Regions from separate parts of the Homo sapiens genome. Here region 2 is linked to region 1. Evidence: fine-mapped expression QTL. Tissue or cell type: cerebellar hemisphere. Region 1 holds a variant in brackets; the other region holds the start of a gene. All regions are shown on one strand. Distances are between the middles of the regions.

Evidence for each region. PIP is the estimated chance that this variant, and not a neighbour inherited with it, causes the effect.
Region 2: it holds the start of LACC1, and the variant in region 1 is fine-mapped to the expression of LACC1 in cerebellar hemisphere (GTEx, PIP above 0.99). The same link has a PIP of 0.9 or more in whole blood.

Annotation. Positions count from the first base shown.
Region 1 is chr13:43,816,873-43,825,057 of GRCh38, forward strand. It overlaps a transcript of CCDC122 not described here. Among named protein-coding and RNA genes, the nearest start is that of ENOX1, 34 kb to the left of the region's middle. The variant C/T (reference allele first, on the strand shown) is at 3,580.
Region 2 is chr13:43,876,764-43,884,948 of GRCh38, forward strand. LACC1 (laccase domain containing 1) reads left to right here and starts at 3,141. Exons shown (of 7, transcript NM_153218.4): 1 at 3,141-3,356; 2 at 4,189-4,784; 3 at 5,422-5,600; 4 at 7,008-7,173. The coding sequence starts at 4,223. CCDC122 (coiled-coil domain containing 122) reads right to left here and starts at 2,977. Exons shown (of 7, transcript NM_144974.5): 1 at 2,868-2,977. RefSeq lists a silencer at 2,879-3,028.

The DNA.
Region 1 (8,185 bases):
TGACATGGTGTTATTCATGTACTAGAAGGAAACATTGACATATTTCTTAATAAGCTGAGTATGAGAAAAACTTTCCTAACTATGACACAAAATACAAAAACAGTAAAACAATTGATCAGTTCAACTACATAAAAATAAAACAACTTTTGCATGGCAAAAGTAATATAAAAAAGTAAAAAGACAAATGACAAGCTGGGGAAAATAATTGCTACTTCTGTCACAAACGAAAGATTATTCTGGCATGAAGACAGCCACATTGACCTACAGGATAGAATAGAATGCCAAGAAACAAGCTCTCACATAGATGGTCAAAACATTTTTGACAAGGGGACCAAGACCATACAATGAGGAAGAAACAGCCTTCCACAGATGGTGCTGGGAAAACTGGGTATCTACTTGCAAAAGAATGAAGTTGGCCCCTGCTTTTATACCACATACAAAAATCAACTCAAAATGTATCAAATATTGGGCTGGGCATGGTGGCTCACACCTGTAACTCTAGTACTTTGGGAGGCCAAGGTGGGTGGATCACCTGAAGTCAGGAGTTCGAGACCAGCCTGGCCAACATGGTGAAACCCTGTCTCCACTAAAAATACAAAAATTAGCCAGGCATGGTGGCACATGCCTGTAATCCCAGCTACTTGGGAGGCTGAGGCAGGAGAATCACTTGAACCCAGGAGGCAGAAGTTGCAGTGAGCCGAGATTGTGCCACTGCACTCCAGCCTGGGTGATAGAGCCAGACTCTGACTGAAAAAAAAAGTATCAAAAATCTAAACATAAGAGCTAAAACAATAAAATTACTAGAAGAAAAAACATGGTGGAAAGCTTCATGACATTGGATTTAGCAAAGATTTCTTAGATATGATGTAAAATCACAGGCAATGAAAAATAGATAAATAGTTGAACTACATCAAAATGTCAAAATTCCGTGCACCAAAGGACATAGTAAATGATGTAAAAAGGCAACTAACTTTTTTTCCTTCATTTCAACTTTGGTGAAACTGACAATTATGTGTCTTGGAGTTGCTCTTCTCGAGGAGTATCTTTGTGGCGTTCTCTGTATTTTCTGAATTTGAATGTTGGCCTGCCTTGCTTGATTGGGGAAGTTCTCCTGGATAATATCCTGCAGAGTGTTTTCCAACTTGGTTCCATTCTCCCCGTCACTTTCAGGTACACCAATCAGACGTAGATTTGGTCTTTTCACATAGTCCCATATTTCTTGGAGGCTTTGTTTGTTTCTTTTTATTCTTTTTTCTCTAAACTTCTCTTCTCGCTTCATTTCATTCATTTGATCTTCCATCACTGATACCCTTTCTTCCAGTTGATTGAATTGGCTCCTGAGGCTTGTGCATTCGTCACGTAGTTCTCGTGCCGTGGTTTTCAGCTCCATCAGGTCTTTTAAGGACTTCTCTGCATTGGTTATTTTAGTTAGCCATTCATCTAATTGTGATCGGTGTGCTGCACCCACTGTCCTGCACCCACTGTCCGACACTCCCCAGTGAGATGAACAGGTGCTGGAGAGGATGTGGAGAAATAGGAACACTTTTACACAGTTAATGGGACTGTAAACTAGTTCAACCATTGTGGAAGTCAGTGTGGCGATTCCTCAGGGATCTAGAACTAGAAATACCATCTGACCCAGCCATCCCATTACTGGGTATATGCCCAAAGGATTAAAAAACATGCTGCTATGAAGGCACATGCACACGTATGTTTATCGCGGCACTATTCACAATAGCAAAGACTTGGAACCAAGCCAAATGTCCAACAATCATAGACTGGATTAAGAAAATGTGGCACATATACACCATGGAATACTATGCAGCCATAAAAAATGATGAGTTCATGTCCTTTGTAGGGACATGGATGAAGCTGGAAACCATCATTCTCAGCAAACTATCACAAGGACAAAAAAACCAAATACCACATGTTCTCACTCCTAGGTGGGAATTGAACAATGAGAACACATGGACACAGGAAGGGGAACATCACACACTGGGGCCTGTTGTGGGGTGGGGGAAGGGGGGAGGGATAGCATTAGGAGAAATACCTAATGTAAATGACGAGTTAATGGGTGCAGCACACCTTCATGGCACGTGTATACATGTGTAACAAACTTGCATGTTGTGCACATGTACCCTAAAACTTAAAGTATAATTAAAAAAATATTTAGCAGAAAAAGAAATGCTTATGGCCTTTAAACATATGAACGATGTTGAACCTCACTTATTAGATAAAAGCATATTAAAATATATTTGTATAATAGTTCTCTGACCTGTTATGTAGGAAAAATCCAAAAGCTTTACAATGTACAGCGATGGTAAGGCTTTGGAGAAGCAAACAGTCTCATACATTGTTGGTGTGATTATAAAAATGGTAGGTAAAACACCAGGGGACAGAATTCAGTAATATCTAGCAAAATTATGTGTGTATGTATGTTTTCAGCAAGCAATTCCACTTCTAGGAGTCTATTCCAAAGATATACTAGCTAAAATAGAAAATGACGTTTTCATGAGGGAGCATCCATTGCAGTACTATTTGTAACAACAAAAGATTACAAACAACCCAAATATTCATTAAAAGTTGAATAATCCATGGACATCCATTAGAATGAAAAGTGATGTAATTATGAAAAAGAAATTAGGAAGACCTCTATGTATCACTGTGGAGATATGTCCAGTATATTTAGTAAAAATAAGCAACAAAGCCAACAAAGTTTAAACAGCCTATACTACGCTACTTTTTGTCTCATAAAGGGATAAATACAGTACTTCTTATATTTAAAATGAAACAATGAAATAATGAATCAAAAAAATAAAAATTGTATGCCATAGAGGGATAAGGAAAATAAGAAGAGAGCAGAAATGGAATCCAGACCTCCCTAAAGTTACCTTATTTTATAATTTTAATTTGTAAACATGTAAATATCTCACATAATTAAAAAATAAGATGAAATAAAGATTTTAAAATGTGATTTCTAAAAATATAAAAATGTGATTTCTAAAAATATGAAAAAGAGAAACAAAATACATATTTTGTCTGTTCGTTGCCAGTAGAATATCATAAGGACAAAAAGACCCAAAAACCTGAAGTTTTTTTTATTGTCAATAAAATTGTTATTATTATTTTGAAACAATAAATATTTGTATTAATGTGATTTAGGATCTAAAATTTTCAGCACAGGAGAAAAAAGTGCATCTATAAAAGTGAAGGTGTTAAGGAAAACTCTATGTAATCTTTGACTTGAAAAACATAGTATAAACTGATGGGTTTTTAAAAATCAGTCCAAACTATTGTCAAAAATACAGTAGAAACTGATGATTTACTTATAAGTCCAAAAATATTGTTGTTTTCTACCTCTACCCACAGAAAAGCCTGAGGGATAGTGACAACCTAGTTTTGATGAACACCCTTAATGCTGAGCTTGTGGTTTCTAAATACTATTTCCTAATTTAAAAAAACACAGGAGCTCCACGGTAAAGTAGCAGGTTTCAGGTCTAAGGCGGGGAATATAGATGGTAAGTATGAGACAACTTGACACTCCTTAAGCAAGTAAGTTACAAAAACTTGGGGTTTTGC[C/T]GAAAGGACATTAAAGGTAACTTGAGAAGCTCTCACTGGTCAAAGATAGGGCTATTTGAACATCAATAATAATACTGTCACTGATTACAACATCAAATATATAAAAATCTACGAGTTAATTATAATGCTTTGAAAAGGGAATCTGGCTTATTACCTTTGAATATGGCTAGAACACTGGCTTCTTATTCTAAAAATTGAAAACTAAAATGAAAGAATCGAGTATCAATCCTGCCTCTCTTCTATGAACCATGTTTCCAGTTAATCAAAGAGCTGATGAAGCAGAATTTTTCTTCATATAAGAATCACGGGAAATAAATCAGTTTCTCATCTCTAAAATGAGAATATTTGTGATCCACTTTATAGTGTTGCTGTGGCTCACAGTAAAGGTCCAGTACACGTTAGCTTTTATAATTACACATTTTGAAGGGTATGCGTTCTTTTAAAAATTGCTGTAGAGAAAACACACATGCTATTGAGAATATTCTTGAAAAGTATTTTTCTATTTAGAACAATGTTTGATATCAACTTATAATAGTGCTATCCTAAACCAAATTTTATTCTCAAATGTCTTATTCCATATGCTATTCCATAAGGTCCAGGATAAGCCAGTAAGAAAAATGTGTTTTAGGATTTTTTTCTTTATCCTTGACCTTTGGGAGTTTCGGAGTTTGATTATTAAATTCCTTGAGATAGTCTTCTTTGGGTTAAATCTACTCGCTGCTCAATATCCTTCTTGGACTTGAGTATTGATATCTTTATGTAGGGGTTTTTAAAACATTTTTATTTTCTGAGACAGAGTTTTGTTCTTGTAGTGCAGACTGGAGTGCAGTGGCACAATCTTGGCTCACTGCAACCTCCACCTCCCAAGTTTAAGCTGTTCTCCTGCCTCAGCCTCCCGAGTAGCTGGGATTACAGGCGTCTGCCACAATGTCTAGGTAATTTTTGTATTTTTAGTAAAGATGGGGTTTCAACATGTTGGCCAGGCTGGTCTTGAACTCCTGACCTCAAGTGATCTGCCTGGCTCAGCCTTCCAAAGTGCTGGAATTATAGGCGTAAGCCACTAGGCCTGGCCCTTTCTCTAGATTTGATAAGTTCTCTGCTCTTATCCCTTTGAATAAACTCTCTACCCCATCTCTTTACCTTCTTTTTAAGGCCAATAACTCTTAGATTTGCCCTTTTGAGGCTATTTTGTAGATCTTTTAAGTGTTCTTCATTCTTTCTTATTCTTTTTTCTTTTGTCTCCTCTGACTGTGTATTTTCAAATACCTCATCTTCAAGCTCACGAATTATTTCTTCTGCCTAAATTCTGATATTAAGAGGCTCTGATGCATTCTTCAGTGTGTCACTTGCATTTTTCAACTCTAGAATTTCTTCTTGATTCTTTTAAATAATTTCAATCTCCTTGTTAAATTCATCTGATAGAATTCTGAATTCCCTCTCTGTGTTATCTTGAATTTCTCATAAGTTTCCTCAACACAGCTATTTTGAGTTTTCTGTCTGAAAGGACACATATCTCTGTTTCTCCAGGATTGGTCCCTGGTGCCTTATTTAGTTTCTTTGGTGAGCTCAAGTTTTCCTGGATGGTCTTGATGCTCGTAGATGTTCGTCAGTGTCTGGTCACTGAAGAGTTAGGCATTTATTGTTGTCTTTGCAGTCTGGGCTGGTTTGTGCCCCTCCTTCTTGGGAAGGCTTTCCAGGTGTTAGAAGGAACTTGAGCCCCAAGCCCAATAATGCTGTGGTTCTTGCAGACTCATAGAGATACTGCCTTGGCAGTCTTGCATACGATCTGGAAGAATTCTCTGGATTACCAAGCAGAGACTCGTGTTCTTTTCCCTCACTTTCCCGCAAATGGAGTCTGTCTCTGTCTGCTGAGTTCCCTGAAACTGGGGGTGGGGAACACAGGCTACCACCACTGGGACTGCACCAATTCAGACTTGAAAACAGCACAGCACTGGGTTTCACCCAAGGCCCCCTGTAATCACTACCTGGCTACCGCCTATGATCACTCAAGGCCCTAGGGCTCTATGATTAGCAGGTGGCGAAGCCAGCCAAGTTTGTGTCCCTTCTTTAAGGGTGGTAAGTTCCCCCAGGCCCCAGTTGGGTCCAAAGATGCTGTCTGGGAGCCAGGGATTAGAGTCAAAAACCTTAGAAATTTACCTGATGTTCTATTCTACTGTGGCTAAGCTGGCACTCAAACCACAATACAAAGCCTTTCCCACTCTTCTCCCTCCTTTTCACAGAGAGAGGAGCCTCTCCCTGTGGCTGCCACCACCACCAGCCCATGGTGGGGTTCTGCCAGGGCACTGCTGATGTTCACTTAGAGCCTAAGGGCTCTTCAGTCAGCTTGTGATGAATGCTTCCAGGCCTGAGACTCACCCTTCAGAGTGGTGGGCTCCCCTTCTTTTATAAGGCAGGTCCAGAAATGGCCATCCAAGAGCCTAGGCCTGGAACCGGGGACCCCAAGGGTCTGCTGGTGCTCTACTCCCCAGTGGCCAAGCCGGTGCCTAAGGTGCAAGACAAAGTCCCCTTTACTTCTCTCTCTGCTTTTCTCAAACAGAAGGAGTCTTTTGCTGTAGTCACCACAGCTGAGAATGTCCTAAATCACACCTAAAGCCAACACATCTCAGAGCCCAAGGCCCATGGTGTACTACCTGGGTACTGCTGTTTGTTATCCAGGGCCTAAGGACTCCTTAGTCAGCAGGTGATGAATCCTACCAGGACTGGGTCCTTCCCTTCAAGGCAGCAGGTTTCATTCTGGCCCAGGGTGTGTCTAGAAATGTAATCCACTAGCTAGGGCTTGGAAAGAGGGGCCTCATGACTCTGCCTGATGTCCTGTCTCACTGTGGCTGGGCTGGTATCCAAGATTCAAGACAACGTCCTCTTTACTCTTTGCTCTCCTTTCCTCAAGCAGAAGGAAGAAGTCACTTTCATCTCTGTGAGCTGCACTGCCTGGGGTTGAGGCAGGAGTTGTGCGAGCACTCCCTTGGCCTCGCTGTCTGGTATTGCTCTAGGCCATTTACCTGACAAGTTCCCAGGATCTAAGGCCAGCCCAGCACTAGGCGTTGCCTAGGAATTGCAATCCTTGTGCCCTAGATTACTCTTCAAGTTTACCTAGGACATCAGAGCACTTATGGCCCACAGTGGCAAGGCCTTCAGAGAAACTCAAGTTTCCATCACTGGGATGGGTGAATCCCCTCTGGCTAGGTCTGCTCTGAAAGCCTCCTCCATGCGTGGGCGCTAGGTGAGCCCAGCACAGCTTTATTCTCTACTCCCAGGGCAGCACTGAGTTCAGTGTAAAGTCCCCCAGTTGTCCCTCCCTCAAGTGCACAGATTCTCTCTCTGAGCCCCCAGTCACTGCTGGGGTATGGAGGAGTGGTAGTTTGGCTCTTCAAGACTATCTCTTCTAGCCTCTTTCAGAAATATGGAGTTGAAACTAGGTACTGTGATTGCTCACCTGATTTGGGTTCTTGTGATGATGGTGCTCTTGAGTATAGTTAGAATTTGATGCTCCTGCTTGGGGAATGAGTGGTGCAGGCTTCTATTGGGTCATCTCGCTTTGCCTTCCAAAAAATGTATTAAATGACAATAAATAATGATTTCATGTTTTAGCAAGGAGTTTAACCCTTTTTCATGCCAACGGAATCTCTCAGATTGGAGGAGTCAGTTCAATATGAGTGAACAATATGCTATGACTACCATGAAAAGCACATGTAAACTGAGGTTGCATTAGTAGAAACCTGAGTCCCAAATATGGGATGAAATAGACCTCTTCTATAAGCAACTAATAAGACTATATCTTTAGTATCTTTTTGTTTTCTTCAACTTTCATAGGACAATGTGAAGGAAGAGTATATGCAAAGGGATGTAACTAGCATGGTGAAAGGACTCGCACTTATGCCACATAAGTTGTGATAGAAACGGAACTCCTACCTTTCACTACATACAGAAATTAACTCAAGATGGATTAAAAACTTAAATGTAAGACCTCAAACTATAAAATCCTAGAACAAAACCTAAAAAATACTTTTGTGGACATCAGCCTAGGCAAAGAGTTTATGACTAAGTCTTCAAAAGCAATTGTAACAAAAACAAAAATTGATAATTTGGCCTTAATTAAACTAAAGACCTTCTGCACAGCAAAAGAACTATCAACAGAGTAAACAATCTACAGAATGGGAGAAAATATTTGCAAACTATGCAGCTGACAAAGGTCTAATATTCAGAATCTTTAAGGAACTTAAACAAATCAACAAGAAAAAATCAACCCCATTAAAAAGTGGGCAAAGGACATGAACAGATGCTTCTGGAAAGAAGATATACAAGTGGCCAACAAACATATGAAAAAATGGTCAGCATTACTAATCATCAGAGAAATGCAAATCAAACCCACAATGAGATACCATCTCATACTAGTCAGAATGGCTATTGTTAAAAAGTCGAAAACAACAGATGCTGGTGAGGCTGCAGAGAAAAGACAATGCTTATACATTGTTGGTGGGCATGTAAATTAGTTCAGCCACTGTGGAAAGCAATTTGAAGGTTTCTCAAAAAACCAAAAATAGAACTACCATTCAACCCAGCAGTCCCATTACTGGGTATATACTCA
Region 2 (8,185 bases), 60 kb after region 1:
AAATCTATGTTTAATATTTTGGAAAGACCCAACAAAAGTATGTGAGATTAACTGTAAAAGATTATAAAATATAGCGGTGGCTCATGCCTGTAATCCCAGCACTTTGGGAGGCTGAGGCAGGCAGATCAAGAGAGGTCAGGAGTTCGAGACCATCCTGGCCAACATGGTGAAACCCCGTCTCTACTAAAAATACAAAAATTAGCCGGGCGTGGTGGTGCACGCCTGTAATCCTAGCTACTTGGGAGGCTAAGGCAGGAGAATCACTTGAACCCTGTGGAGGCTGCAGTGAGCCGAGATCGCACCACTGTACTACAGCCTGGCGACAGAGCGAGACTTCATCTCAAAAAAGAAAAAAATTACAAAGTATAAATCTGCCCTCAGATTGCTTCACAGGTGCCTTTAAGTTATTTTCCCCTTAAAAGAACAAAATCTTGGGAAATCTTAGCTGATGGTTTATGGGTACGGTTTATGCAAGAGATAGTATGCAGAATTCCAATCAGTAGACTACATGCAAAGAAAAGGTCTTGGATCTTCTCAATAGATGGGCAAATGAACACACAGTTGTTTTAGGTTAGAATACAGTTTAAGGTATTTGTTATATTTTTTCATGATTCTGTGGTTTAACTGACCTTTTTTCTTATAAAAAAAGCCTTTTTTAGATATAATTTACATACCACAAAGTACATCCTTATAAAGTGTACAATTCAATATTTAACCATTTTTTCCACTTATTTCTTGGCTAGGGGCCCAGACTACATCTATGAGAGGGCTTCTTCATATGAACAAAATGTAAAGAAGCTATTAATTTTGCTTGATGAGGGATGGGGATTCAGGGAAGATTATGTTTGAGCTTGAAGAGCCTTGAACAAAAAGTAGCAGTTAGGCATATAAAAAGGAGGGTATTTTGCTAAGTAGAGGAACTGCAAATGTAAAGAATGAAATCATGTGGCCTCCAAAGAACAGCTTTTATTTGAGTGGCTTGGGAATAGGGTGTTTTTATTTTTTCAAACTTAATTATGCATCTAACTCATACATAGAGGTTAAAACAAAACAAAAAAGCAAAGCAAAACATGCTCAGGCCTAACTCCTAGAGATTCTGATTCAATGTATATTTGGGATAGAGTCTCTACATTAATTATTTTTTTTTTCAGTTGCACTTGCAGTTCTGATTTGCAGCCAAGACTGAGAACCACTGGAGTAGGATAGAGTGAAAATGGGATGAGGAAGTGTTAGGACATGACACTAGGACCAGATGGTGAAAGGAAATGGTATGCAAATACAATATAACAAACTCTCTTCCCTGACAACTTCATTCTTTTGAAATATTTTCTTTTTCATTTTTTTTTTACTGCCACTACTTTTGCATGAAAGAATACGAATCCCACCATTGTAAAAACAGAGATAAATGTTTAAAACCTTTGTAACTAAAAGACCTCTGTTTTGCTTGAGGTATTAAGCTGGTGCAAAAGTAATTGTGGTCTTTGTCAATGGCAAAAACCGCAATTACCTTTGCACCAATCTAATGATATTTAACATAAACAAACTCAGGGCAGAGTGCACCTTCTGATTGGGTGTACCATCTACCGCTCGGGGCTCTTTAACAAATGACCAAAGAAAACATGAATTTTGACATAACTGGTGCTAGGGTTATTGAAGGGTGGGTTTCCATTCTGGGTTAGTGCTCCCAGTCTCTAGTCAAGCACAAGAACATGCCTACCCCAGAGGGCTCTTCCAAATTCCCAGCTATCTGAGATTATGAGACAAAGGTTCTTTAGCGCCTACCAAATGAGCAACAATGAAGATAAAAGGGACCTCTCCTTCCATCATAACCAGTTCCCCAGGAAGCACCATTTCTCTTACTCTTGGAAGGTCGGATATTTTTTCCCTTTACCATACACTGGCCTTCCATGTCCTAACTGCTATTTTCAAATAAATGAACGTTATATTCTTGGAGGACAGATCAGGGATGCTAAACTGCACCTTTATCATGATTTTAGGGATGAGCGCCTTTTACTTAAGTCCTGCTAGTGGCACATATTTTAAAAGGCCATAGAGGACATCCGTGTTGTCAACACAAGTGAAGGCGCTCGGAAGAGTGTTGGTCAGCAAGAATCAGCACAAAGACATTGGAGGAGAGACAACAGCTTGTTTCTGGAAACAAATGAACAACAAAAAAACACTAAAACATCTCGAGGGGGCCCCTGACTTGAGCCCTGCATGGGAAAAGCTGCCAAGAGCTAGCATGACAAGGGACTGGCCCTGGGCTGCGGTGAGGAAACCCAGCGTCCTGACCACACTGCTGGGTCAGCGAGGCGTCCCTCAGAGACCGGAAACGCGGACTTCAGCTCGCTTGGGAAACGGCTTCCATTAGCAGAAGGGAGACTGCGGTTTAGTCCCGAGGTCGCTCCAGCAGCCCGGCCTCACGCGACCCACCATTCCCGCCGCCCCCTCACGGTGCCCGCCGTTCCCGCCGCCCGGCTTTCTAACCGGGCCCCTAGTTCCCCGCCCCGTGCCCTCTGGAGACCTGCAGCTCCTGCCGCCCTGCGCCCGCTCCCAGGGCCCGTCGTTCCGCCGCCCTATCCCTCCTCAAGGGGCCCCTAGCTGCCTCCTCGCGACCCTTTCCGGACTCGGCCTGCCCACTCCTGCCCGCTAACCCGCCTGGCTCCCGGGCGAGAGCCCTCGCGCGGCTCTGGTTCCTGTTCCTCTAACGCCGCCGGGGCTGCGGGATGCCGACTCCGCGGACCGCCCAGACCCGGAACTGCTGAGGCAGCAGCGGGCTCGCGGCGCTTGGCTCATCCCGGGATTCCCCAGCTCTCGCGCTGGGCCCGCCGCGTTCGCACCAAGCACGCCAGGCGGCCCTGGCCTACCTCCCTCCCGCCTCCCGGCAGCTGGCACGAGGGAACCTGGCCGTCAGGTTTCCCCTGGGATCCTGGGACGGTATCAGGCGGGGAATCTGTGCGGCCGCGGCGAGGTAGGTGAGGTGAGGCGGGGCGAGGTGGGCGAGGGGGGCGAGGTGAGGCGGGGCGAGGCGGGGCGAGGCGAGGCGGGGCGAGGTGGGCGAGGTGGGCGAGGTGAGGCGGGGCGGGTGTCGTCGCGCTGGGCCGAGCTTACGACTCCAGCTGACCCGCTCGCGGCTGCCCAATTTCGTTGAGGCTCAGGACGAGGGACGGGGCGGCAAATTGTCACAGAGGTCGCCGTAGACCGGTGTGCAACCGAAGGTGAAGAGCGGGAAGGCGAGGACCGAATCGCCTCTGGTGTGCGTTGTCCGACAGGAAGTCCCGAATGGGCTGTGAGCCGCCGGTGGAGGTGCCCGGGCAGGTGCAGAGCCACAGCCTGCGCCCCGTGAGCCGAGGCGGGTAGGAGGAACAGGGACCTGGCGGCGACACACGTTGGGCGGAAATTCACAATGAACAGGGAAGGGGGGACGGTCACCCACTCAAAACTGGCTAAATGAACCTCAGAGGGAGCCCCGAGAGATGGGGAGCAAAGGTTAGGGGAAGCGGCAGGAGAAAACCTTCTTGGGGCAAAGGGCGTCACCAAAGGGGGTCACCGGAGCCCCGCAGGTTGGGGTGGGAGGGCTGGGCTGGAGGTGAGCAAAGCTGCACGGGGAGAATGAATTAAGAAAGTTGAGAGGAAGCCTGTCTCATCCAAATCACTATAGCTTTTGTGGTCATTGCTAAGTGTGGAGTACTGCGCAAATCCTGAAGGGAACTCTATTAGCCATCTCAGCTTTTATCATCTTAAAACGCGAATTTCGCGTGCAGCTCCATTTAGCTTCGTAAACTTAAGCCCCCGCATATGAAAGGATGAGACCTAATATGACAATCATGTCAGGACTAATGATATATCACACAGGTTGACACTCTGCAATTTAAAAACAGGACTTTGTCTAAACTCCACAAGTAATTCCTTACTCAAAAGTTCTGTGTAAACAAAACAGAGGAACTGTCGTGCTGCTGGAAAGATGTACCAGCATTTTCACAAAACGAATTAAAAGATGGCTTTGCTTTCACTGTCATGGTTCTGTTGTGACAGAGTAGACTGGCTTTTCTGGGAGGGGCCTAGATTTACTATTTTAGTTACATTTTAAAATCAGTGTAATTACTTCGTTTTTAATCTACCACAAATTTCTGTTGTAACTATAAGATTTATATAATCTTATATTCTTACACTAATTTTTATTTGCAGGTGATTTATTTGGCATAAAAGTATTCTTTCAAGGATGGCAGAAGCTGTTTTGATTGATCTTTTTGGTTTGAAATTGAACTCTCAAAAAAACTGCCATCAGACATTACTGAAGACTTTGAATGCTGTCCAATACCACCATGCTGCCAAGGCCAAGTTTCTCTGTATAATGTGTTGCAGTAACATCAGCTATGAAAGGGATGGAGAACAAGATAATTGTGAAATAGAAACAAGCAATGGATTATCAGCTCTCTTGGAAGAATTTGAGATTGTTAGCTGTCCCAGCATGGCTGCCACTTTGTATACCATTAAACAGAAAATTGATGAAAAAAATCTGAGCAGCATTAAGGTAATTGTACCCAGGCACAGGAAGACATTAATGAAAGCTTTTATTGATCAACTCTTCACTGATGTTTACAATTTTGAATTTGAAGATTTGCAAGTGACTTTTAGGGGAGGGCTTTTTAAACAGTCCATTGAAATAAACGTAATCACAGCTCAAGAACTAAGAGGAATTCAGAATGAAATAGAAACATTTTTGAGAAGTCTGCCAGCACTGAGAGGAAAATTAACTATTATCACTTCTTCTTTGATCCCAGGTATATTAACCACTAACTGTTGTTTTTACTTTGTACATGGAAAACTAGTCTTTCTTCAGAGGTAGTTCACCTCTTTTTTTCCTCCTTTCTTTTGTTGACTGTTGTGGGCTGATTACTCATTAGCATCAGTGGCAACACAGAGGTGTCATGTTTGGCCCTGTAGTATCAGGGGTGTCAAGGGATAAAGCCTTCAAAGCCACCCCAAATAAATAAATTTGCTTTACAAAAATTTGATGATGAGACAAATAATCTAGCCCTCCTTTGCAATGAGATTTATGACACTGAAAATCTTCTATTTAGAAATTCTGAAATTTCAAATCATTGGCACCTTCATAGAAGAGTAAAATTTAAAACAATCAATCTTACTTCTTGGTTAAACAGTATTTTCTGTGAGCTATATGCTATTAGATATAACAAAGCCAGATGAGACACAATATACCTTTTGAAGAGCAACAATCTCATAGGGAGTGTAAAACAAACACAAAGCAGAATGCCATAAGAACATATGGAGGTACAAAATGCCATAGAAATTAGAAGCCAAATAACAAGGGCAGGTAGCAGTGATCAGGGAAGGTCTAATTGAGAGACTGGTATTTTGAATAGCATCTTTTAAATCTTCACTGCTTATCTTCAACAGATATTTTCATACATGGATTTACTACAAGAACAGGTGGGATATCTTATATACCAACTCTTAGCTCATTCAATCTCTTCAGTAGTTCCAAACGGAGAGATCCCAAGGTAGTGGTTCAAGAAAATCTGCGTAGGTTGGCGAATGCTGCAGGATTTAATGTGGAGAAATTTTACCGAATAAAGGTAAAATTTTGCTTTATATTTTGAAAGATCTAAAGTATATTTTTTACTTTGCTAGTAACTACATGGACTTTAAGCTATTTAACTTTTGTATCTGCTTTTTTATCTAAAGTTTTAGAATAATGCTGTGGTTGTCTTTCTTAGATTTATACACCATAGCCTAAAGATAAGTTCTATTTTATACACACACACACACACGTGCAGATATATATATATATATATATATGCACACACACATATAGTAAGTCATCCTTTAATGTTGATAGGTTCTTAGAAATTGTGACTTTAAGTGAAACGACATAATAAAACCAATTTTACCATAGGCTAATTGATATAAATAAGAATAAAGTTTCTAAGGCATATTTCTTGTCACAAAAACATCACCAAACTTCTAAATAAAGACCAACACATTCCTAGTATTAAACATTGAAATAAATGTGAGCTAGACATATATTTACAAAACAGTAAGAAAGACAAATAAGATAACTACCAAATTATTTCGGTTCAGGGCTTTAGGTAGCTGGAGTCTATTCTGGCAGATCAGGATGCAAGGCCACAACCCACCCTCGACAGGACACCATTCCATTGCAGGGTGCCCTTACACACACACACACGTACTCATGCTGGGACCATGTAGACACCCCAATTCATCTAACATGCACTTCTTTGGGATGTGGGAGGAAGCTGGAGTACCCAGAGAAAACCCATGTGGACGTGAGGAGAAGGTGCAAACCTCACACAGTCAGTGACCGGGTGGGTAATCAATTTTTTTCATTAACATTATAATGAAATGATGTGGAATAAAATGACATTATTCAAGAGCCTACTGTATATTTCATCTGGAGTCCTCAATTCTAAAAGTACAGTTAATTCTCAGAGAGTATACTACCACTGCTCTTTTTGATTTAGAAGAAAGGGAACTGAATGGTGGTAGAGAAAGGCCATTATTTTATAAATCTACTCCAGGAGGAACTAGGGTCATAGTTGATGAGATAATGTCTTGTTCCTTACAGAATTCTAGCTTTACTTGAGTCTTGGAAAAGTAAAAGTATCATTGATTTGTTAATTAACTTTCCTTTACAAGAAAAATTTTCATTTTGTAGAAAGTGCTATAAGAAATGATATACCTATCTTTATGGAAAGATGTTCATTATTCACTATATTGAATTTTATAATGTTAAACTCTGCTTTTCTTTGCATAAACTATCAGAGATTATAATCTAAAATCTTAAATAGTTAAATTATAAGTAAATTTTGTGTTTTCCCATATATAAAAGTGATATATTTAATGAATGCTAGTAATCTTAAACTGGTTATATAATTTTATACTACAATGAGTACCTTCGAGAAAGCTTATGGTATAAGAAATACTATTTCCAAAACATTTTTGTTGCACATTTTTGGTATTAGACTCATCATTCCAATGACATCTGGATTATGGGAAGAAAGGAGCCTGACTCTTATGATGGAATAACCACAAATCAGAGAGGAGTCACAATAGCAGCTCTTGGTGCAGACTGTATACCGATAGTTTTTGCAGATCCAGTCAAAAAAGCATGTGGGGTTGCTCACGCTGGTAAGTATACTTAATTAAACATTTAGAATTTTACTCATTTTGTTGTGCAGGAAAAATTGTAATTTCTTTCTGATGGACATGGCAAACAGTTAATTACATTACACTGTGGTAAGTGTAATGATGGGAGAGGCGGCATAGTTTTATTATAGGGACAGCTAAGAGGAGTATCTGCATCAAATTATATGAATTATAGTAGAATTCCCAAAGGAGGTGGCACCTAGGTTGATTCCTGAGGAATTTGTTGGTTTTGGCTGGGTAACAGTGTTCCTTAGCAAGGGTGCTATTAACATTTTGGGCAGGATAATCCCACATTGCAGATTAAGTGTCTTTAGCCCCTGAAATCCTTAATGACAGTAGCACCTCTAGTTACTGTAATAACCAAGACCAACCAACCAACCAATCAAACAACAACGAAACCCTCCAAGCTTTTCAAAACACTCCCTAGGGGAGTGGTACTGCCTCTGGTTGAGAATCCTTGAAATCCAGGCCATAGGAAATAGGAATGTTAGGCATGTTGCAGAGAAGTGTTCACCCAGATGGAGCTGCATGTGTAAAGCTAGGGAGGTAGGAAAAAGCAAGATGTTTTGAAAACTGTTTTTAGTTTACATCACTTAATGTATTTAACTGTAACTATTCTCTGAGAGCAAAGAAGTATTTTTAGAAGGTATATTGTGTTAAGGATATGGAATTTTGTTTTCTGAAGGTATTTTAAAATAGTATTTTAGATTACCCCATAGCTGTGATTTTGTGTGAAATGAGGGATGATCTTTAAAATTTCCTTCTACTTGTAAATCTATGGCTACTTTGCTTTTTAGCTCATAGGTAAAAAAGAAAGTAGCATATTTTTATTTTGACCTAGCTGAAATAATGGGATTGAATGAGTAGAAGTCAGGTTTACTACATGACATTGTCAAAAAGTTATTTAAAATTTGAGTCTTGGCTCCTGGATATAAAAAGAGGATATTATTTTTTTACTTCTTAGGTTCGAAAACATTTAGTTTAAACATATCCA